Linked DNA regions of Homo sapiens. The protein of the gene in region 1 purifies or fractionates together with the protein of each later gene. This does not show direct contact. Each region holds a gene or a part of one and is shown on either strand. Other genes may lie near its edges.

What was found. The genes of interacting proteins can lie anywhere in the genome.
Region 2: the proteins of ARHGAP44 (region 1) and WDTC1 purify together in Homo sapiens (affinity purification with mass spectrometry; 2 studies listed by BioGRID and IntAct, with this or other methods). This does not show direct contact.

What each region holds. Positions count from the first base shown.
Region 1 is NC_000017.11:12,792,485-12,799,507, reverse strand, and holds part of ARHGAP44 (rho GTPase-activating protein 44), read right to left. Parts: intron 1-7,023. UniProt on the Homo sapiens protein: GTPase-activating protein (GAP) that stimulates the GTPase activity of Rho-type GTPases. Thereby, controls Rho-type GTPases cycling between their active GTP-bound and inactive GDP-bound states. Acts as a GAP at least for CDC42 and RAC1.
Region 2 is NC_000001.11:27,230,189-27,237,631, reverse strand, and holds the start of WDTC1 (WD and tetratricopeptide repeats protein 1), read right to left. Parts: upstream 3,001-7,443; 5' UTR 2,681-3,000; intron 2,436-2,680; exon of another isoform or gene 2,321-2,435; intron 1-2,320. UniProt on the Homo sapiens protein: May function as a substrate receptor for CUL4-DDB1 E3 ubiquitin-protein ligase complex.

The DNA of each region.
Region 1 (7,023 bases):
GGCCCAGGCATCTAAGAGCCAGTATACCACTTCTATTTTCTCTTTTACCTTTAGCACTGACTGAAAACCACATACTGAGATTTTGAGGTGGAGGGGAAGATGGATAGACTAGGTTCCAGAATCACACACGGAGGAGAGCTGTCCATGGGAGTCCTCCTGACTCACATCACATTCACATGAGCTTAAAGGAAGCTTTTGCTATGTTAAGCCCCTGAAATTCCAGAGCTCATGTGTTATCACAGCAGAGCTTAACCTATCCTAACACAACATGGAAGACTAAAGACCAGGAAAAGAACAAAGTAAACTCAGGGAAATCAGGAGGAAAGGATCTGAGAAAAGCAGAATTTACTAGAAAACATATGTGCTGATCAAAAGCTAATGAGAAAGAAATCCAAATGAAAATAGCTTAAATCTAATTACTGACCGGGGTAGGGAGAGACTTCCTCTGGGGCAAAACTTGTCAAAGGGAAAAACAGAATTGTAAATTAGGAATGACAATAGAAATACAATGATATACTCAAAAACTTTCTATTAAATTTTAAAATCATAGTATAATGAATGCTTTTCTATCAAATATGTTATTCAAACTGACTCAAGAAAAAATAGACAACATGAATAGTCCAATAACCATTCAAGAAATCCAGAAAACTGTCAAAGAACTACATCCAGAAAACACCCTTGGAAAGTTGTTTTTATCTTCAAAGAATGAGTACTTCTCCATCTTACCATTCTATAGGAACAAAAAGAACATTGAACAACTCATTTTACACAATTAACAAAACATGACAGATATGGGGGAAAAAAATCAAATGCTTTCATTTATGAATGTTGAATGCCAACATCCTAAATAACAAATTAAATCAAGCAGTATTGAAAAATATGAACACACCATAGTCAAGATTAACTGCAGGAAGGCAAGGAGAGCTCAATATTAGAAAATCTATTGAGGTTCAAACATCCAAAACACAAGCTCCTCATGGGTACTGACTCTATCATTGATGTATCAATGATGCCTGGAACATAAAAGTGTCCAATAAATATATACGGAATAAATTATTGAGTGATGTCAAAATCAAAGAAAAAAACACATTGTGATTATCTGCAAATGCCATGATAAATCAAATTTAACTTTGATGTCAAAGAAAACCTCAAAGTAAAATAAAATTATGCAATATGTAACATAATTAAAAAACAAAATATCTCAAACCAATCATCATGCATTTTAATTGAGGTTAATAAGACATGAATGCCCACATATTGCCATGATATTTTAACATTGTTCTATAAGTCCTAGACAATGCAATTAGGTGAGAAAATAAAACAAGTATAAACCACCAGAGAGGAAAATACAAAATTATTATTTGCAGAAGACCTAATTGTCTCCCTGGAAAATCCCACAGACTCAATTTTTTTAAAAAAAGTATTTAAAAATAATGAGATAGTTCATGAAGGCGGCTGTTAAGATAATTACATAAAAATCAACAACTTCGCTACATTCCAGCAACAAAGAGTAAGAAAAAATATATAATTTAATAAAAGATTCAAATCACTGAAGCTACAGTAACAACACTGACAAATTACCTATAAGTAAAAGCAAAATTGTACAGGAGCAAAATGGACAAAAACTACTTTATAGGATTATAAATAGATTGGAATAAACATGCCCTATTCCCAGATGAGAAGAATTCGCATTATACTCAATATTGTAAAAATGCCCATTTTTTTCCATCTTAATATACACTTTTAAAAAGTAATACTGAGAGACAATAAACAAATGAGCACAGTCAAGAAAACTGATCAACTTTCTTTCATAATGGAGCAATTTGGAGGTTAACTGTGGTTAAGACACAGCATGATCCTTAGGCAAAGGCTGTTGTGCTCTAAAGACCCAGGAATGGCCCGGGTTGAAGCTGAGCTGAGAAGTTCAGCCTGACTCCACTCCCACCCAATGGACGGGGTCTCATGATAAGGATTAACCCACCACTGCTTATCTGGGTAGCTGAGCCCGTCTTAAATTCCTGCCAGAACCAACAGACAATAAAAAACAAACTAGAAATCACAGAAAAAGATAAAAGTAGATGAAATTTTTTAGTACACAATGATGATGATACTTCAATATGGTGGGTATGAATTACACTAATCAATAGCAGGGTAATCAATTTTAAAAAGCGTAAGTATTATACCTAAGCCATGTCATACATCAAAATCAATGACTGACACACTAGAGATCTGAAGGTAAAATGAAATTATTATAAATAGTAATAAAAATGCATGCATATTTATATAATCTGCATCTGGGCAAAGTATCCCCAGACATAACACTGAAGAACAAACCACAAATAGATAGACTTAAGATCACAAAATGTTAAATTTATACACGGCCAAAAGAAAAAAGAGACATACAACAAAAATTTTTAAAACCTCTAGGGAGATGTGTGTGGCATATGACAAAGCATACATATGCTTAATATATTAAAAATTACCTTAACATCAATAAGAAAACAATTGTGAACATGACTTTAGAAAAATGGGGCAAAGACAAATGCAGGCAATTTAGAAAAGGCAACTAATGTCAAGAGAACTTTAAAAATGTTCAGCCTCAAGGCCAGGCGCAGTGGCTTACACCTGTAATCCCAGCACTTTGGGAGGCTGAGGCGGGCAGATCACGAGGTCAGGAGACCGAGACCATCCTGGCTAACACGGTGAAACCCTGTCTCCACTAAAAATTCAAAAAAAAAAAAAAATTAGCCAGGTGTGGTGGCAGGTGCCTGTAGTCCCAGCTACTTGGGAGGCTGAGGCAGGAGAATGGCATGAATCCGGGAGGCAGAGCTTGCAGTAAGCCGAGATCATGCCACCGCACTCCAGGCTGGGTGACAGAGTGAGACTCCATCTCAAAAAAAAAAAACAAAGAAAAGTTCAGCCTCACTAGAAAATAAAAGAGGTGGGGTCAGGTATGGTGTTGCACACCTGTAATCCCAGCACTTAGGGAGACTGAGGATGGAGGATCGCTTGAGCACAGAAGTTCAAGGCTGCAGTGAAAGTAGTGTGTATGTATGTGTGTATAATATACACATTCAAAGTCTTAAAAATTCACATATTCTTTGACCCAGCAATTACATTTCTAAGACTTCATCCTAAGAAGCTAAATTCATGAGAAATATTTGCTAAGTGAGTAGCAAAAGAAAATGAGTTAACTACAGTGGAATACTGTATAGCCTTCAAAAATTATGCTGGGGATTAACAGTTATTGACATGGGATCATATCCAAGATGTAATATAAAGGAAAAAAAAACAGGTTACAAAACAGTATACAGAGTATGGTCTGTACTCTTTTTAAAGAATAGATAGATAGATAGATAGATAGATAGATATACTTCTCAAAAACTGAAAGACTATATCCAAAATATTAACTATGGTCTCTGGGTAATGAGATTATAGGTGATTTTTTTTTCCTTTTAGCCCATCCATAAGTTTATGATTTTTCTACCATAAACAAATATTACTTATATAACCAAAATGAAGGTTAAAAAAAGTAAATTGAATTCTGTGGGAAAATAAACATTTATTCTAAAAATAAGCTCTAAAGTTGGAAAATGAAAGCAAAACATCTGCTTCCTGGACAGAAAGAAGAGTTTGAAATTGCTAGACAGCCACAAGCTTCCCAAAGGCGGTGGAGTTCCAGGTGCCAGCTCAATTGGATGCCCCACGCCCGAGGGAAGAGGCCTGACTCTCTGACTCTCCCCCCAACCTCCTGCCTGACCTACAACTACATCCACACAGATGTAGCATAATTTTATTATTTGCTGTCTTTATCAAATAGCATTTGAAATAAACTGCTTTTGATTATTAATAAAAGGGATACTTACTAATCCCCTCTAAAAGGAATGACCATAAATTACCAGTATATTTGTATGGCTACTGATCCACTTTCTCTAGAGAAAAAAAAAATGGTCCTTATTGCCCATCATTAAAAAAAAAAAATCATTGATAAATTACTTTGATGGAGACAAACTGGGAAGGAAAATGATTAATTGCTATTTAAGAGCATGGCTTCCTCACGATGACTTGCAGGTCTGGGATAACAGAATTCTGCAGGAAATCTAGACAGCTTCAGGCTGACTGCTGACAGCAGCTCAGCAGAAGGTGAAACCCAGCAGACCCACACAGTGAGGATCTTAGAAGATAAGAGCAAAGAATATTCTCTCCAGATTTGCTAACCCAGTAATCGGTGGGTTAGTACACTCTGTTATCTCTCACATATATACAGCAGAACAGGCAGTAAGGCCTGGGCTTCCATAAAACTCTAATGAAAAACTTTGCTCTGAGACCCATTCAATGTGCACAGCGCTCTTTGGGGGACGAGTTTGGGTCCGCCCAGCCCTGCTGGGCTAACAGGAAGCCCATGGCAGGGCCTGTGTTGGTCTGGCAGGTCTAACTCACAGTAAGGGAAATAGAAGGGAAGGAACAAAGCAGTCCAAAGCCAAATTTGGAATTGGTTCTGATTTTCCTCTAATGTCCTATTGATTGGGTCACGGCTCTTAGAAGGCCTACTACAAGGCAGGGCAATGTCTCAGAGATACCTTCAAGGAAAAGATCCTCACTGACTTTGGCAGCTTTGGCCCAGACAAAAATGTCTGCAGCACCAGTGCTCCTAGAGGCTGCTGCAGCCTCAGCCTCCAGTTCCCAGGCTCCCCACCACTGGCTAATGCCTAGGCCTCTGCAGCTGAATTCCAAGAGCTGCACAGCAGCAATGATACCTGCAAAGCTGTGCACCAGAAACCAAGCCTGCTTTGCAATGTATGCAAAGCAGTCAAGGAATAGAAAACAAGGCTCCAGAGACAAAACTTTGTCTTCACTCCCCAACTCATAGCCTCTAAATCCACACAATTCAACCCGACCCAACCAGCCTTCTCCTTCCCGCACACCCACAGTTCCTCACCTACTCCCAGACACTTTGAACATCACTCATTTTAAACAAGAGGACAAGCCCCACTTGGACCATCACTGGGCAGTAGCTGTTGAAATCGTTTCTAAGAATCCTTTTCTACTTAGGAGGCCAACATTATTTTTGGAAGACTTGAATGGGTGTTCAGTGACAACGAACCACCTCAACCATTTGTTGAGGACTTCAGTGGACCAGGCTCCCTCCAACCTCATGACAGCCCTCTGAGGATGGGGCCGCTGTGAACCCACTGTGCAGACTGGAAAAAAAAGTCCTCCCCACCAAATCAAGGTACCATTACTTCTTCCATTTGCTTTATCTTAGTGGGTCTCGTGGGTGCCAAATTTTAGCTCAGGGCTTTGCTCCACCCAACATCAAGCAAATGTCACTTCCAAGAAAAATACTCTATGCCTTTCGGTATGCTTCTCACTCCAGCAACTGCTAGACTCTCTTGAAGGTAAAAAGAAAAATGCTGCCATCAATCAGGCAAGAACCAAATTCTCCCGTAAATCTTGCTCTGCCCTTCCAATGCCCAGAAGTGCAGCTGTTCCTCTCTCCTCTGACCACCATCACAACGTTAAAGAAACATGGTATCAGGAGCTTTCCCCATCTTTGAACTACTTCAAAAGACTCCCCTATCTATAGCGCATGGATCTTTTGTTCACTTACTCATTCCATTGCCAAAGAATGACAGAGGACCTTCTATACAGGGCAGCGTTAGGGCAGCTGTCCCTGCCTCCAAAGAGTTTAAAGTCTAGTGGGGAAAGTAAATGACAAAAGATAAAAATTATAACACAAGTGAGCCATTATTACCATAGCATGCTTTTAGAATGCAGGTTCCTTTTTTTTTTTTTGTGTGAGATGGAGTCTCACTCTGTCGCCCAGGCTGGAGTACAGTGGTGCAAGCTTGGCTCACTGCAACCTCCACCTCCCGGGTTCAAGCGATTCTCCCGCCTCAGACTCCCCAGTAGCTGGGATTACAGGCGCCCGCCACCATGCCCAGCTAATTTTTGTATTTTTAGTAGAGACGGGGTTTCGCCATGTTGGCCAGGCTGGTCTCGAACTCCTGACCTCAGGTGATCCACCCTCCTTGGCCTCCCAAAGTGCTGGGACTACAGGCGTGAGCCACCACGCCCGGCCTAGAATGCAGGTTCCAGGCAAACAGGAATTTTGTTTGCCCTGTACTGCAATACTCCCTGAACCAGAGCAGTGTCTGGGACACAGTAGACATCTAATAAAGGTACATATGCCATAGTGCATATAATTCAATAACAGTCATAACATTTGCCCAGAGATACTTGTAGCTACCATTTATTAAGCATTTCCTAGTGCTGAGCACTGCTAGGTACTTTTCACAGGTTATCTATGTTATCACTGTGGTTACCACATTACCACAGTGCAATCCTTAACTACTCCCATTTTGCAAGTAAGAAAATTAATGTGCAGAGAATTAAGCTCTGGATTCCATAGTCAGCAACAAACTAAACCTGTCCCAGTGGAAAGCCTGTGCTCCTAACCATGAGGCACACAGTGGCCAGGGAGTGCTTCCCAAAGGACGGATTGAAGTGAAGGGACAGAAAGGGGAAAGTTCAAAGCAGAAGGAACACGTGCAGACTAAGGAAACAGACCAAGGAGGGGCTGAAACTTTTGTCAGTTAAATACAATGGGTTTTATCAAATCTTTTCATAGTCGCTGACGCCCTTAATATGACTTGGATGTGAGCACTTCGAGAGAAAGTACTAGTAACCCAGCAGAGTATGTTTAAGTAGGGCAACTCCTACATTGTTAAAATGACTTTAAGTTTTATATTCAGAACTCCAGAACCTGCAACTTAGGGAAGGCGAGCCATGAGGAAGGACTTTCAAGTCCTCTTAGTCCTCCCTCGGAAAGAGGAAAACTTTAGAAAAATATAAGGATAAAAATCAAGTGCTTTATAACTGCACACCTAAAGTCCAAATTCCAATCCTATGTGCTTCTACTGATTTAAGAAATTAACAGGCAACCGCGGGCTCTTTTACTCCAATACTCATAGGATCATGACCCAAAACATTCTCAATAATAGAGGAGATACTGCCCCTCTC
Region 2 (7,443 bases), on another chromosome or scaffold:
GTGATCTGCCCACCTCAGCCTCCCAAAGTGCTGGGATTACAGGCGTGAGCCACCGCGCTCAGCCAGGAACTGGTTTCTAATAGCAACTGCCAGAACTTTGGCTTTTCAAGAGATGACAGCTAAGAAAGTACAACCTAAGGGTTTTGTGGGCCCAGCAATCTGCAATGGCAGCCTAAAGATACAGTGGAGCATCTGGAAAGGTGAGGTGGAAAGAAGAAAGGAAACAGAATAGATAACTAAACCAGTGACCCAAAGAAAACACAAGTATCACCAGATTACATGTTCTGTTTGACTTCCTCTCTGAGACTCAGAACTGCACATGTCAGCAACATTCCTTAATTTTTAAAAAGAGAGAAGAGAGTGGTCACGGAGGCCGTGTCTGTAGTCCCAGCTACTAGGAAGGCAGAGGTACGAGAATCCCTTGAGCTCAGGAGTTTGAGACCAGCCCAGGCAACAGAGTGAGACCCCATCTCAAAAAAATAAAAATAAAAGGAGAGGCCAGGTGCGGTGGCTCACACCTGTAATCCCAGCACTCTGGGAGGCCGAGGTCGGTGGATCACGAGGTCAGGAGTTCAAGACCAGCCTGGCCAAGATGGTGAAACCCCATCTCTACTAAAAATACAAAAATTAGCTGGGCATGGTGGCAGGCACCTGCAATCCCAGCTACTTGGGAGGCTGAAGCAGAGAATTGCTTGAACCCAGGAGGCTGAGGTTGCAGTGAGCTGAGATCGCGCCACTGCACTTCAGCCTGGGCAACAGAGCAAGACTCCATCTCAAAAAATAAATAAATAAATACATACATACATAAAGGAGAAAAAAATAAAAATAATTAAAGACCAAGTCATAGTCTAGATCTTCCTTAGCAGTTGGCCCAAGATCCACAAATGTTTGGCAGTGGGCTTCAAGATTTTCAGTTGTCTTTCCAGATCCTAAAGTCTAGGTGTGCAAAAACACCCTACATAAGATGCCCAATGAGTCAATACTGAACTCCTCCCGGCTAAAAAAAACTGTCAATTGTATGAAACTGGTAAATAGTTGTTAACATCATCATCATAATATTTACACGTGTTCTCTCTTTCCCTCGTGACCCTCAATGAAGGTGTCCCAGGCAGAAATATGGGCTACTGCTCAATTATTCGGCAGAGTTGATCCAAAAGCACTGTTCCTTCAAATTGAGATAAGACTCGAACAGAAGTGCTCCCATATAGGTCAAAAAAGGAAAGGAGAGCAGGACTCCAGCCTTAAAGCAGCATGATCACAAACTATGACGGAAAAGGTCATTTCCCACCTGCCAACGAAATACAACAACCTACAATGAAGAAACCTCAGTAAGTCTCAGACTTGGCCCAAAGGAGCCCAACTAGTTACTCCCTGGTCTGTTACAGAGGATCTGGCTATTACACTCAACAGCAAAAATTCAATTCAATCCCGCTAAAGATATAAGAATCACAAGGAAGAATAAGCCAGAACTCAAGACAGAAATAGCATTAAGTAGTTCCTTCAGTACAGTGAGCAGAAGCTGGCCACTCAACGACTCTAAAAGACACAGAAAAGCTTAGTAGGGACCACTGGGCATACCGGTGTCCTAGGTGGGGATTTCGTAACGTCTTTGAGTCAGAAGCTGCCCTCAAAATAGTTTCTTCTCAAAACGGTTTCAGGCTTTGTTAGAAAGGGAAGACTTCACTGCCACTTTACCCAGATCATCTACCCCATCCTTGGAATGAATGGGGAAGCTTCAGCCACCCTACCAGGCTCCTAAAATCACCAACTTGAGAGAAAAACTATAACGTTGCTCTACCAGTACTTCAGGAGGTTAAAGAAAGTCACAGAAGAAAAGAACTCTGGGGAAAACAGTCAAATTCGGCTATTAAGACATTAGTTACAGGCCCCTGTACCTCTCCTCTAGAAACCCTGGGAGTACACCCGCAGAGGAGAGAGAGCCCAAGCCACCAAGCAAAGTCAACCAATCTGGCAAAGGGGCGTCCCACTGCGGCTTTCAGTCCAAGAAGTGGATCCTGCTGGTTCGCAGTCTCTCTTCTATCTCCTCACTTCCTATTTACCCTTTGAAGTGGGTACTGAATAGCCCGTTCCCAAGCAGAGGCCCTTTGTATACGGGGTGCTACAGTCGCCTGGTGGAAACACCTTGGCAGAGTTGTTTGGTGCCAGGATGGGCCACTGAAGGCATCTGCTGTGGACACACACACACACACACACACACACACACACACACACACACAGAAAGAGAGAGAGAAAAACAGAAAGAGAGAGAGCGAGAAGCTAAGAGGGCAGGTCAGGTCGGCGTTGCCCTCCCAGCACTTACACCTGCCCCTTCTTCCTGACTCCGGCGCCAGATCAGATGTCAAACAAAAACTCCGCAAAAAAGTCCCATGATGGAATGACTTCCACCTCTCCCTCCGCAGAGCCTCCCCGGACTCCCACAGCCTCCCCCCGCGTCCCGACCAAACCCTCCGCCCCCACCCCGCCCCCGGACCACTCTGCCCTCCGCCCCGGCGAGGCCTGGCCCCTCTCGGGACACCCGGGGCCCCGAGGCGGGTAGGCTCAGGCCCCCAGGCCGGCAGGGCTGGAGCCGGCCCAGAGCGGGCGGCCCGTTCACCGGGGCTGCGGGAGCCGGTCCCCGCCTCGGCGCCCGCGGAGGGCAGGGGGCGGCGGTGACCCGTACCTGTCAGGTCTCTTCCCCCGACCGGCAGCGGCGCAACTTCAGGAGCCCATGTCCGTCCGGGGGGGGCGGCCCCTCTCCCGGGAAGGGGGGCGCGGATCCCGGGGAGGGGGCTGGGGGGCTCGAGCAGTTCTAGCCCCTTCCCATGCTCCCCGCCCGGCGCCTGGCCGGGGCCGGACAGCGCCTCCGCCCGCCCCTGCGCACCGCCTCACACCCGCGCTCACACACACTCACACTCCCTCGCGCGCTCTCACACACGCACTCCCCTCCCTCCTCCTCCTCTGTTTATCTCCTCCAGCTGTCTGGGGACCCAGGAGAAGCCCAGCAACGCGCCTGCGCCACGCAGTCTCCGCCTCCGCCCTGCGCCTCGCAGCCGGCGGGTACGCTACGAAGACTGCGCCCGGCCGCTTCCAGAATGGCTAGCCGGGCCCCCCCACTTACCCCCCCGCGCCCGGTCAACGTCTGCTGCCGGCGGCGCCCACTAACCTGCTAGTGGGGGAGCCCCGCACCGCCGTGGCCAATGGGCTTCGCCGCTTGCGGGACCGGCAGCCAGTGGGCGGGCGGGAAAGCTGGGCTAAGCCCTGGGGCACCCTGGGAGTCGTAGTTTTTCGCCGTCGAGGAGTTCCTGCAGAGCGGGCTCACCCCGCCCGGTTGCCATTAGTTACCCGGACGCACCTCCCACCCCACCACCGGGTAAAACGCTCCTCACACCGCTTCTGGGACACCCGCCCACACGCTCGCCCACTGAACCCCAGGTCCCCTCACAGCCCCTTAAGAGCTCCTAAGACTTCCTCTCAGCCCCCGAATTCTGGGACCTCTCAGGCTAGGGCCCCGGGGGGCTCCTCAGCCCACTCCTTCCTGCTCTGGGGGGCTGCTGAAGTGGCACAGTCCTCACTGACGTCTCCTGGGCCTTAAGGAAGAGAATGAAAGAGAATCGGGCCTACGCTGAGTAGCCTGGAGAGGAGTCAGCCACACACACTCTGGGTGCCCTCGGGGTGATGGGAGCGACTAGGTCCATCTGACCCTAGCGGAGTCACTGCTGCTCCCACCTCTGAGGAAGAGACGCAGTTCCAGCCTTGTGGAGTCCCGGGTCTGATGGAGGAGAGACCCTCCTCTTTATTAAGGAAGTTCCCAAGGTGACAAGGGTGGCACTAAGCCTATCTTCTTAAGGCAGAGACCAGGCCCCACCCGTGAAACCTCAAGTCAGAAAGGGAAGACGTGTCACCTTCTGACAAAGGAAACTTGTCACCCATAGGGTGCCATTTGTCAGATACTAACAATAATTCACTTTTATTCGCACTGGATTGGGTACAGTCTCTTAGCTAGGTACTATTGCTGTCTGTGTTTTGCAGAAAAGGAAAGCTGAAGCAGAAAGGCTAAAAGCAACTTGCCCCCGGGGTCCTGATAAGTTGGCAAATTGGGAATTAGACCCAGATCTGCCTGACACCAGAGTCTGAGCCTTTTAACACTGCCTGTCTTTCCTGTGAAAACCAGACAGCACCCGCTCTCAGTAAGGACTGAATATATGTATTTGGCATTTATAGTGTTTATCACTCCATGTGTCGCTTGTTTTTTTTTTTTTTTTTTTTTTTTTTTTCCAATTCTGCTCACATCATGAGTACGAATTTGTCTGTGAATACCTGAATACTCCCAGAGACAAAGGTAGTATTCTAATTGCTGGTGATTTCTCCGCAAGGGAGATTTCTCCCCATTTAGAGGAGTAAGAACCTATCCTTGTGAAACCGCTCACAAAGCCTTTTATGCCTTTCTCCTAAAAATATTGTGGGTCATTCCCCCTGAACTCTCCACCACAGCTGTTCTACTGAATATAAAAAATCATAGACTTTGGGACTAGAAGAAAGCTTTGAGATCATCTATCTGCAGCTCCCCAGGTTCAGGCTGCAACCTTGGTTAGGGTCATTGGGTTAATTAAACTGAATAATATCTAACATTTATTGAATACTTACCATGGGAGATAAGTGCTACTAGTGAATTAAGAAATACTCCCGGGCTGGGCGCGGTGGCTCACGCCTGTAATCCCAGCACTTTGGGAGGCAGAGGCGGGCGGATCACGAGATCAGGAGATAGAGACCACCTGGCTAACACGGTGAAACCCCATCTCTACTAAAAATACAAAAAAATTAGCCGGGCGTGATGGTGGGCGCCTGTAGAACCAGCTACTCGGGAGGCTGAGGCAGGAGAATGGCGTGAACCCGGGAGGCGCAGCTTGCAGTGAGCCGAGATCGCGTCACTGCACTCCAGCCTGGGCGACAGAGCGAGACTCCGTCTCAAAAAAAAAAAAAAAAAAAAAAGTAAAAGAAAAAGAAACACTCCCGGCCGGGCGCGGTGGCTCACGCCTGTAATACCAGCACTTTGGGAGGCCAAGGGCGGGTGGATCGCCTGAGGTCGGGAGTTCAAGACCAGCCTGGCCAGCATGGTGAAACCCCGTCTCTACTAAAAATACAAAAATTAGCCGGGCGTGGTGGCGCGTGCCTGTAATCCCAGCTACTCAGGAGGCTGAGGCAGGAGAATCACTTGAATCCTAGAGGCGAAGGTTGCAGTGAGCCGAGGTCGTGCCACTGCACTCCAGCCTGAGCAACAGAGAGAGACTCCATCTCAAAAAAAGAAAAAAGAAAAGAAAGAAAGACAGACTCCCACAATCACATAGCTAGGAAGTGGTACAGTTGGGATTAAAGCCTACACTATTCAAATCCAGAACCCTCATTTTTAAATCATTTTAGCATCCTGTGTTTTTGGCAGAGACCACCCCCCCCCCCACTTTTTTCTTCTTTTTTTGAGACAGAGTCTTGCTCTGTCGCCCAGGCTGGAGTGCAGTGGGGCAATCTCTGCTCACTGCAAGCTCTGCCTCCCGGGTTCACACCATTCTCCTGCCTAAGCCTCCCGAGTAGCTGGGACTACAGGCGCCCGCCACCAGTTTGTCATTTCATTTAGTACAGACGGGGTTTCACCGTACTAGCCAGGATAGTCTCGATCTCCTGACCTCGTGATCCACCCGCCTCTGCCTCCCAAAGTGCTGTCACTACAGACATGAGCCACCGCGCCCGGCCAGAGAACCCCCATTTTAAAGTCTTGTTTAATGCTGGCAAGGTCACAGAGGATCTTAGATATACTGATAGAGAAGAGTGGGTGATGTTTCTGTGACTCCTAGCACAGTCTATGGCACATAGCAGAAACTCAGTAAATATTTGTTGTCAGAATGAACTTTCGTTGGTAGAGACTGATGACAGGAAGAAGACTATTTCTTTTGAGACGGAGTCTTGCTCTGTCGCCCAGGCTGGAGTATAGTGGTGCAATCTCGGCTCACTGCAACCTCTGCCTCCTGGGTTCAAGCGATTCTCCTGTCTCAGCCTCCCGAGTAGCTGGGACTACAGGCACATGCCACGACGCCCGGCTAATTTTTGTATTTTTAGTAGAGATAGGGTTTCACCATAATTGGTCAGGCTGGTCTCAAACTCCTGATCGCAGGTGATCCACCTGCCTTGGCCTCTCAAAGTGCTGGGATTAGAGGCATGAGCCACCTCGCCCCACCAGGAAGAAGACTATTAACAACTGCAGTTACTATTTATTATTTTCTAATAGATACCACTCGTACTCTTACACTTGCTTGAGTTTCTCTCTTTCTCACTTCCTCTCTCTCCATATAGGCAGAGACCTATACATAAATCTATACATACATATGTGTACACGCACGCACACACACCCATATACATTAACACACACTAACTCATTTGCTTCTCCCAACCACGTTGTGAGTTAGGTATGATTCTTACTCCCATTTTACATAGAAGAAACAGAGACTCGGCCAGGCATGGAGGCTCACGCCTGTAATCCCAACGTTTTGGTTCCAGACCAGCGTGGGCAATACGGCAAAATCCTGTCTCTACAAAAAATATAAACATTGGCCAGGCGCGGTGGCTCACGCCTGTAATCCCAGCACTCTGGGAGGCCGAAGCAGGCAGATCACGAGATCAGGAGTTCGAGACCAGACTGGCCAACATAGTGAAACCCCGTCTCTACTAAAAATACAAAAGTCAGCTGGGCATGGTGGTGCGTGCCTGTAATCCCAGCTATTTGGGAGGGTGAGGCAGGAGAATAGCTTGAACCCTGGAGGCAGAGGTTGTGGTGAGCCAAGATCACGCCACTGCACTCCAACCTGGGCAACAGAGCAAGACTTCGTCAAAAAAAAAAAAAAAAAATTAGGGCAGGCATGGTGACTGGGCCGGGTGTGGCTCATGGCTGTAATTCTATCACTTTGGAAGGCTGAGGTGGGAGGATCACTTAAGGTCAGGAGTTTGAGACCAGCCTGGCCAACATGGCCAAACACTGTCTCTATTAAAAATACAAAAAAAAAAAAAAAAAAAATTAGCCAGTTGTGGTGATGCGTGCCTGTAGTCCTAGCTACTTGGGAGACTGAGTTAGGAGGATCGCTTAAACCTGGGAAGCAGAGGTTGCAGTGAACCAAGATGGCACCGTTGCACTCCAGCCTGGTACACAGAATGAGACCCTGTCTGGAAAAAAAAAAAAAAGGAGAAGAAAGAAGAAGATGGTTAAGTTCAAAATCAGACACATGCTTCCCAGCCACAGGTGTTTTCAGATTATGAAATAATTTTCTTTTTCTTTTTCTTTTTTTTTTTTTTTCAGACGGAGTCTCACTTTGTCACCCAGGCTGGAATGCAGTGGCGAGATCTCGGCTCACCACAACCTCCGCCTCCCAGGTTCAAGCGATTCTCCTGCCTCAGCCTCCC